2 linked regions of the Homo sapiens genome follow. The protein of the gene in region 1 purifies or fractionates together with the protein of each later gene. This does not show direct contact. Each region holds a gene or a part of one and is shown in the gene's direction. Other genes may lie near its edges.

Region 1 (5,576 bases):
AATTTAATTGATCATTTATTTTAAGTAAACCATCCATTTTTAAAATATTTTATTTTCCCACTTTTAGGGCCCTAGGGTTGGGATGAGAAACATTTTGGTTAGAATAGAAAAATTTGTAATATATATATGTATATATAAGGATGCAATATGTATGCAATATATACACACACACATATTGCATACATATTGCATCCTTATATTAATGATATCAGTAGTATGATCACATTTTCTATGCCCTAATTAAGCAAAAAACAAAACCAAAACCTTTTTTTTTGTTTTCTGTTTCCAGTTAACATGGTAAATGTTTAATTTTATGTCAGCAAATGTAACATTGCTGAGTCTTTTTTTTTCTTTTACCTCAAAAGACAACAACAATAACAACAAAAGTCCAAAACAAAACAGTGCAAGAGCCATCATTTTATTATTTATAGAATGTTTATCTTGGAGGGGAAATAAGTTAGCTAACAGAAATGCTTGAAAATAAACATAATTAGGCAACTTTTATATTTCTTCTTTCTGAAGTACTTCATATATCCATAGCAATAATGAAAATGTAAATCTGCATAAATAATGCCATACTCTTGTAACATACTTTAAGATGTAAAATTCAAATGAAATGATTTATAATTTCCATGACAGTTTTATAGTCAATATAAGAACAACTTATGATAACAATGAAACTTCAAAAAAATTTATAAAACTTTTTGAACATCAGAATTGGTTTCCTTTTTATGCCTTTGCTTAGCGGCCATATTTTCAAAACAGCATTAAAACAAACACTTGATTCTTTAAAAACCCAAGTATTTAAAAAAAACCTAAAAGCATTAATGTTAACAACTTCCCATTGTGTGCTAGGAAGAAAACTGCATTTATGATTAATTTGCAATTTTAAAGCACCCAGGACCCTGAAATGCTATAAAAATTCTTATTGGAAACTATACTTATTTTGATACATCCTTCAAAGAAATTGTGAAAATAAATATAAACAGCTCATCAGTTCGTTAAAATACAAGTCTGAAATTACTGTGTTCTTCAAAAAGGTATGTAGTCATATGGAAACAATATTCACGAATGTGATTAAGAAAAGGAAAGAAGTTGTCCCTTGAATATGAAAGAATAATAATAAAAATATTTATTTTCAAGTCATGTTTTAGATTTCAAGGTCATCAGTTATGAGAGACACCATGTTTTAGGATGGGTCAGGAAGCAGGGGAAGGATTAATTCTTGATCCTCATTCTTTCCCTAAGACCAGGGAAGTTTTCTGTTTGTTCATTTGGAAGACCATTTGTTCATTTACTAAAAAATTTTTTGACTGTTTAGAATGTGCTAGGCACTCTGTTGAATGTGTCATGGTATGGGCAAGTGCCCACTTTAGGCAATCTCCACCTACAGTTATATTGTATTAAACCTATTCTATGAAAGGACATGGTGTGTCTAAGGCACTTAACCAAAGCACAGCATACAGTAAGTGCTCAATAATGGAGAGTTATTATTCATGTTTTATCCTTTATAGCTGTTCTCATCTACTGAGGAAAGAGTTTAACTTAAAATGTTAAATTCAAAGGGGATGATTCATCATTTCTATGATGGTTTTATAGTCAAAATAATAGAACAACTTATACTAATGAGACTTCAAAAAATTTTATAGAAGTTTTTGGCCACCAAAATGGGTCTCTCTTTCATACTTTTGCACAGGAGTAATAATAAATAGTTCATGCATTTCTCCTGAAAACTTTATGAATAGATTATTTTAATAAAACTATGCAGAGCAGAATTACATGGCAACTCACTATACTAGAAACACATATATCTTCAGGGTGACTAGATTACTCTTGAGATAAAATGGGATTATTCTCAAATACTTTAAGTCATGTAAATGTGATCAGAAACACCACTTTTTGTTATGGAATTGCTCAGTAAATTTACTGTTACCAACTTTGGAATCCAACTAACTATATGTTTCAAAGAACCATCTGAAAATAAGCAAAGAGATATAAACTTTAAAAATTAAATGTAAGCACATAACATTTAAATCATTTCTTGGTAAGTAGGATATCTAGAGCTGTGCTATTTAATATAATCCCTAGTCGTATGAGTCTATTTAAATATAAGTGAATTTAGAGTAAATATGCAGTTATTCATTATACTAGCTACATTTTAAGTGTACAGTAGCTGTATGTGGGTAGCAGATACCATTTTGAACAATACAGACATAGACATTTCCAATCATCACAGATAGTTTTCTTGGACAGTGTTGTTCTAGGGTATTTTAAATAAAGGAATATTTGATGTTTACTATTTATAATGATGACCGCACAGAAAATGATCTAAGAAGCTTGGTGTTTCATAGTCTCTTTGCGTCTTTTCACTACCCCTCTCAAATCTTGATGAGATTATTTGGCATGCTCTTTGACAGACAAAGGCTACTTTATAATAACTTTAATTTCAATACAAATTAAAAAACTAAGCAAAGTATTTACTCAATGACTTTTAGGAAACTGGAGTTTTGAATATTGTCTTAAAGAAATGGCTAATCAATGAGATCAATGCTTTCTCTGCAGCACCTTCCAAACCTTTCCTTCTGAGCACCCCGCCATTCTACTCGGCGTGCTGCGGTGGGTCCTGTCGGCGCCCTGCATCCTCCACTGCTTTTCCAAGTAAGTTTTTATCCTTCATCAGCAATGCCTCAGTTATTCTGTAAACCAAAGCTGCAGGATTTAATGTGCTCTGGAAAACTAATTGGTAATGCAATGGCAAGGAGCTAATTCCTCACTAAAAGTCACAGCGATCTTATTCAAGAGGTTTCCAGAGATTTATCAAACCTCAGCACACTGAGCAATTGTGAGCAGTTCTAATGGCATTGAAACCCAGGGCCGACACATCACCGAAAGCAACTTGTTTTCCATTTGATATAAAAGATCTCGGAGGGACCAGTTTGGCTTTTCTGAAATGTGTAGCAACACTCCTTTAAAGAAGAGGAAAAAGGAAAGGAAGGAAGGCGAAAAATTGTGCTGTGTAAAATTTCCATTCCACTTAAAATGTAACACAGAAAGTCACTAAGTGTCTATGGAGAATAATTTAAAATTGTCAAGATCGTGAGAGGAGATAAATCTCTCCTTTTTGGCATCTTGAAGGTAACCAACCAGAACTGTTGGAAATATTTTCAAGAGAACTCTTCTCCCAACATTGTAAAAGCAACATTTTAGTAGAGTCTGGGGGTGGAGTGAGAATGACAGACTTTCAAAATCTCGCAGTGTGCACACACACACTCTCACACTCAAAGGAAAAATGCAGGCATAAAAGTAAAACTCCCCTTGGTCTTGAGATTTCTGGATTAGATGAGAACATCTAGGCAGGGAATTTGAGTTTATGGTAAAGAGGTCCAGTGGAAGGGTGCATTTCTTTCAGTTGCCCAAGAGAAAACACTTACTCAGCTTAACAGCTCTGTCAGGTGAAAAGTGAAATTAAGAGTTGAGTCAGGCTCTTGTGCCGAACCCCATCACGGTTGAATTCAGATCGCTGCTGCCTCTGTGCATGTGTTTTGGGAATGGTTCAGGAAAGCAGTTGCTCGACAGAATAATTCCTGACAAGTGAGGCAGCAAATGCTGGCCGTTTAATGAGCTGCAGGCTCTAAGCATCTCTTTAGGGGGCTGATACTTTCCCACAGAGCACTTTACATGGCTGGGGCCTGGCCACAATGGGTGACAGACCCGTGACCAATCGTCACTTTCACTCGACTCATCCACACGCGACCTCACCACGATTTTTCACTCTGCAGATGAACTTTAGGAACCATTTCACATGGAAAAGGCTTGGGCAAGGGTCAGTTGCCCTTTTGTATGGTCATAAAGCAAGGCTCTGTGTGTCAGTCTTTTCTCCTGTCTCACATTCCAAGTGAATTTCTGGACACCATTTAAAGCACTTGACTGAAAAATAAAGCAGTAAATGAAACTGACTTTTATAGACTCATTCTAGCTCATCTTCCCATATAACCCTGTCTACCTGAAAAGGGATTTAGTGGATGAGCTGAGTGTATACAGGGACTTGCTGAATACATAGGGCCCATTATCAACTGTGGGGATTCTTTATTAACCGGGACTGATACACTACTATTTTGGAAGTGACCTATTAATTGTCCATTTAACTAGAATGTATTGAATTCAAACAGCAAAATAGAAACCATGACTAAACCTTTTACTCGCTCCTTCAAGGTGGTCTCCTGTGAGGGCAATTGAAAACTCTTGTGCAAATTAAGGAGACATTTATCACCATATATTAGAGTATCAGGAAAAGACTTCTGGAGTAGAGACCTAAAACCCAAATATCTGATACCGTATCATGATGGCATCGCTGTGGAATTAAGTCTTCAGTGTTAGATTTCGGGAGTGGAGATCAAAAGAGGTCCCACACTTAGCTTCAGTTATTTCATCATGATATGATACTGGGTTTTTACTTCAGAAAATCTCTGGCAGTCCAGGTAAGTGGAAATGGACAAAAAATTCCATGTAATAGGTGGACAGACATTCATGTGCGTGTGTGTGTGTGTGGGTGTGGGTGTGTGTGTGTACTTATTTTATAGGGACGTTTGAAGAGTCTCAAGCCATCAAAGTTTGGGCCAGTTTACTAGATAGAAAAGAAAGGTTGGGTCAGTTCAGTAAATAGAGCATGTAAAAGTAATGCTAAAGATGTTTTCTAGATGACTTTATCTTCTCTGCTGCTTGAGAAATTACTTTAAGCAGGTCTTATTTTTCTCCATCTGCTTCCCAGTCCTTTCTACTTTGTGCCTTTTGCATAATTCTTGTAAATTATAGTGTTTATCCCTGGAGGTTTATGAAGTCCTGTGTTTATCTTTTTCTTAAAAATAAATATAGAAGCTGAAAATCAGTACAGCTCTAATCAAGGATAGAAAATGATGCACTTGGTTTGGCTTCATTTCTAAAGTTGGCATTTTAAAACAGTTTAGAGATCCCACAGGTGATTTTAATAAATGATAGTTTCTCATATTATTAGTTATAACTCTAAAATGAATTTCATATATTCTTATTTATAATGTTCATTTGTATTAACAGCAAATAATAACATGGTAGAATTAAGCTGTCAATAAAGAATTTTACATAAATAACCAGGATACCAAGGTACAGTTAATAAGGTTTACATCTGTACAATAATCTTCTTTAATTTAAGGCATTTACTAGATTTTCTTTTTTTCTCCTTTTTCTAATAATAAGAATGATTTTTATGCCCAGGTCTTTGTATTATTTAACATTGTACAAGCAAAGGAAAATGTACTGTCCAAATAAACTTGCATTAAGTTTCAGCTCAGACAGCCAAAATTAGGTTTATATTAAAAAGTTTAATAACTGATTAAATCAATGGCCCTCATCATTGTTTCACAATATTGCTTCACTCTTTCCAAAGAGTAGGATCAGACCAGCACATTTTTAACTACGCGAGTGAAGTATAATTTTGACTCTTAACCTGATTCATTTATTTAATATTGATTTAGTTTTTCTTGTTAACTTCTTAGATTTACGACTGACTTCCCATTGCAATGTGGTAACAATCATTCATTCAA
Region 2 (3,583 bases), on another chromosome or scaffold:
CTTTTAGTGTTGAACATGGTCGAGTTCACTATGAGATGCATGGTGTTTCCTTACTGATTGTTAGAAAGAAACCGTGCAACTCCTATCCATCCAAAATAATTTAAAAGTACAGGAAAGAGTACAGAAATCCCTGGCCTCTCCAGAATCTGTGTTCCAGAGGGACTGTTTCTGTGTGTCTTTTCAAAGCTTTCTCCTTGCGTCTTACAAACGTACATCCAATGTTCCATCCTGTTTCCACCTCATAAGCGTTTGCCCGCATCACTCAACCCTCTCTGTGAACCTCATTCTTCATGTAGGCGGGGCTACCCATGGGCCGCTCTGTTCCCCTGAGACCTGGGGAGGGCAGGCAGGGGCAGGCTGTGCGTCCTTCTCCATCGCCATCGGTGTGGGTTTGCAGTGAGGGGCAGGGGGGCTGGAGTTGGCACCTGGAGGCCCTTCCCGACATGAACCCTCGGTTCTTCCCTGCCACAGAGGACTACGGGCACTACGAAGAGCTGCCAGGGGAGCCTGGGGAGCACCTCTTCCCTGAGCACCCTCTGGAGCCCGACAGCTTCTCTGAGGGAGGGCCCCCAGGCCGGCCGAAGCCAGGCGCCGGTGTCCCTGACTTCCTGCCCTCAGCCCAGAGGGCCCTGTACCTGAGGATCCAGCAGAAGCAGCAGGAGGAGGAGGAGAGAGCGAGGAGGCTGGCTGAGAGCAGCAAGCAGGACCGGGAGAATGAGGAAGGCACGTGTCCGCCCCAGGGGCCGGGGCACAGGCCCCAGGCCGCTGTGCAGGGGAGCGGCGGTGGTGGGGTGTTCCAGGTTGGGTTTCCTGTCAGGAAGGAGCCCATGGCTAGGGAGGACCCCTGTCCAGGGCCATGAAGCCGGGCTGGGGCTGCTGCATGTCCCTGAGAAAACTGGCAGTCAGGGGTGGCTTTCTGTGTTGGGTTCAGGAGAGACCCTGATCCCATGGAGTAGGATGGAGGGCTAGTTCCTGGAGGAGACAGTGGCCAACAGGATTGACCGCCTGTGCCCTGCCAGAGGAGGCTTTAGGGAGACCCTCACAGCCCCTGTTTTCCTACCGTGTTCTCAAGGAGCCAACAAACAAGAGCTAGTCATTGAAATTAACCAGTAATAATCATAGTCACGAGCCACCGAGTCTCAGTTGCTGCATGGTTGACTTAGTGGTGTCCACTTTGGGGTAAAATGACAAGTGGTGTCTAGATCCTGAAGCCAGAGGCCACAGGTGGCCCTGACTGTAGCGCAGGAGCCAGTGGGACAGCAGGAGGAGGGGCCGCTCCCCTGATGGCCCAGGCTGTACTGGCCTAGGTTTTGCTTGAGCCCATGTCTGAGTCTGCCCAGCCGGCCCTGCCTCTTATCAGCTGGTGACTGCGGTTGGTCCACACCAGCCCCTCCCTGGGACATGGGGACATCACGAGCCGGTTTGGGGTCAAGTGTCTCTGAGCCCCAGGCCCAGCCAGAACTGAGTCAATGGTGTCTGCTACCAGGACCTCCAGAAAGAGGTGCCCACAGCTGGACTTGCCACAGTGGGGGCTGAACCAGCCCGGAGGTGGGCGGGAGGAAACAGCAGAGCTCTGGGTTAGGAGTCCTAGCCCGATCCTGGCCCTGACTCCAATGTAACGGCACTGTGCTTCTGTTTTCACATCTGTCAAATGGGCATGATAGTATCACTACCTCCTGGGGTGGTTGTGAGTTATTTAAATAAAACAAACTACTTAGTGCAGTGCCGCCACTGAGGAGAGCTGGGGAGCATGGCATAAACCGAGCGCCTTAGCTCTCTGGGTCTCCTCAGCCGCCCACTGTGGGGAGGGAGCCTTAGAGAGGAGGACCTGAGGTTCTGAGAGGCACAAGCAAAGGAGCTGCTCACGGTGGGCTGCTGTGGGATCCAAGAGGGCGGGTGGTGGATGCGCCCACTCACCCCTCCCTGCTCCTCTGTTCTTTCCCAGGTGACACCGGAAACTGGTACTCAAGTGATGAGGATGAGGGTGGAAGCAGTGTCACCTCCATCCTGAAGACCTTGAGGCAGCAGACGTCCAGCCGACCCCCGGCTTCAGTTGGGGAGCTGAGCAGCAGTGGGCTGGGGGACCCCCGCCTCCAGAAGGGACACCCCACAGGAAGCCGGCTGGCTGACCCTCGCCTCAGCCGGGACCCCAGACTCACCCGCCATGTGGAGGCTTCTGGCGGGTCTGGCCCAGGTGATTCGGGACCCTCCGATCCTCGGCTGGCTCGCGCCCTGCCCACCTCCAAGCCCGAAGGCAGCCTTCATTCCAGCCCTGTGGGCCCCAGCAGTTCCAAGGGGTCTGGGCCGCCCCCAACGGAGGAGGAGGAAGGGGAGCGGGCCCTGCGGGAGAAGGCCGTGAACATTCCCCTGGACCCACTCCCCGGGCACCCTCTGCGGGACCCACGGTCACAGCTGCAGCAGTTCAGCCACATCAAGAAGGACGTGACCCTGAGCAAGCCCAGCTTCGCCCGCACCGTGCTCTGGAATCCCGAGGACCTGATCCCCCTACCCATCCCCAAGCAGGACGCAGTGCCCCCCGTGCCCGCGGCCCTGCAATCCATGCCCACCCTGGACCCCCGGCTGCACCGCGCTGCCACGGCAGGGCCCCCCAACGCCCGGCAGCGCCCGGGCGCCTCCACGGATTCCAGCACACAGGGCGCCAACCTCCCCGACTTTGAACTTCTGTCTCGCATCCTCAAGACAGTCAATGCCACCGGCTCCTCGGCCGCCCCCGGTTCCAGCGACAAACCCAGTGACCCCCGGGTGCGGAAGGCCCCCACCGACCCTCGGCTGCAGAAACCCACAGACTCTACGGCCTCCTCCCGGGCTGCCAAGCCCGGCCCTGCTGAGGCGCCCTCTCCCACCGCCAGCCCGAGTGGGGATGCCTCCCCACCAGCCACCGCTCCCTACGACCCCCGCGTGCTGGCGGCCGGTGGACTGGGCCAGGGCGGAGGGGGCGGGCAGAGCAGTGTGCTGAGCGGTATCAGCCTCTACGACCCGAGGACTCCCAACGCGGGGGGCAAAGCCACAGAGCCGGCTGCTGACACGGGTGCCCAGCCCAAGGGTGCTGAGGGCAATGGCAAGAGCTCGGCCTCCAAGGCTAAGGAGCCCCCGTTCGTCCGCAAGTCTGCCCTGGAACAGCCAGAGACAGGGAAGGCCGGTGCTGATGGGGGCACCCCCACGGACAGATACAACAGCTACAACCGGCCCCGGCCCAAGGCTGCTGCAGCCCCCGCTGCCACCACCGCCACCCCACCCCCCGAGGGTGCCCCACCCCAGCCCGGGGTGCACAACCTGCCCGTGCCCACCCTCTTCGGGACGGTGAAGCAGACACCCAAGACGGGCTCAGGAAGCCCATTTGCTGGGAACAGTCCGGCCCGCGAGGGTGAGCAGGATGCGGCATCCCTGAAGGATGTTTTTAAAGGCTTCGACCCCACGGCCTCCCCCTTTTGCCAGTAGTGTCCAGCCAGAGCTGCGGCTCCAGCCACCCTTCCTAGGGTGGCATTCAGGGCAGCACCCAGGGTAGGGAACTTGGGGGCAAGGGGAGGCAGGCTGGGTGTTCCTTTTTTCTTTTCTTTTTCTT

Evidence for each region. The genes of interacting proteins can lie anywhere in the genome.
Region 2: the proteins of DBX2 (region 1) and ZC3H4 purify together in Homo sapiens (affinity purification with mass spectrometry; one large-scale study listed by BioGRID and IntAct). This does not show direct contact.

The regions. Positions count from the first base shown.
Region 1 is NC_000012.12:45,033,101-45,038,676, reverse strand, and holds part of DBX2 (homeobox protein DBX2), read left to right. Parts: intron 1-2,562; coding exon 2,563-2,658; intron 2,659-3,431; exon of another isoform or gene 3,432-3,634; intron 3,635-5,576.
Region 2 is NC_000019.10:47,066,232-47,069,814, reverse strand, and holds part of ZC3H4 (zinc finger CCCH domain-containing protein 4), read left to right. Parts: intron 1-471; coding exon 472-723; intron 724-1,945; coding exon 1,946-3,459; 3' UTR 3,460-3,583. UniProt on the Homo sapiens protein: RNA-binding protein that suppresses transcription of long non-coding RNAs (lncRNAs). LncRNAs are defined as transcripts more than 200 nucleotides that are not translated into protein.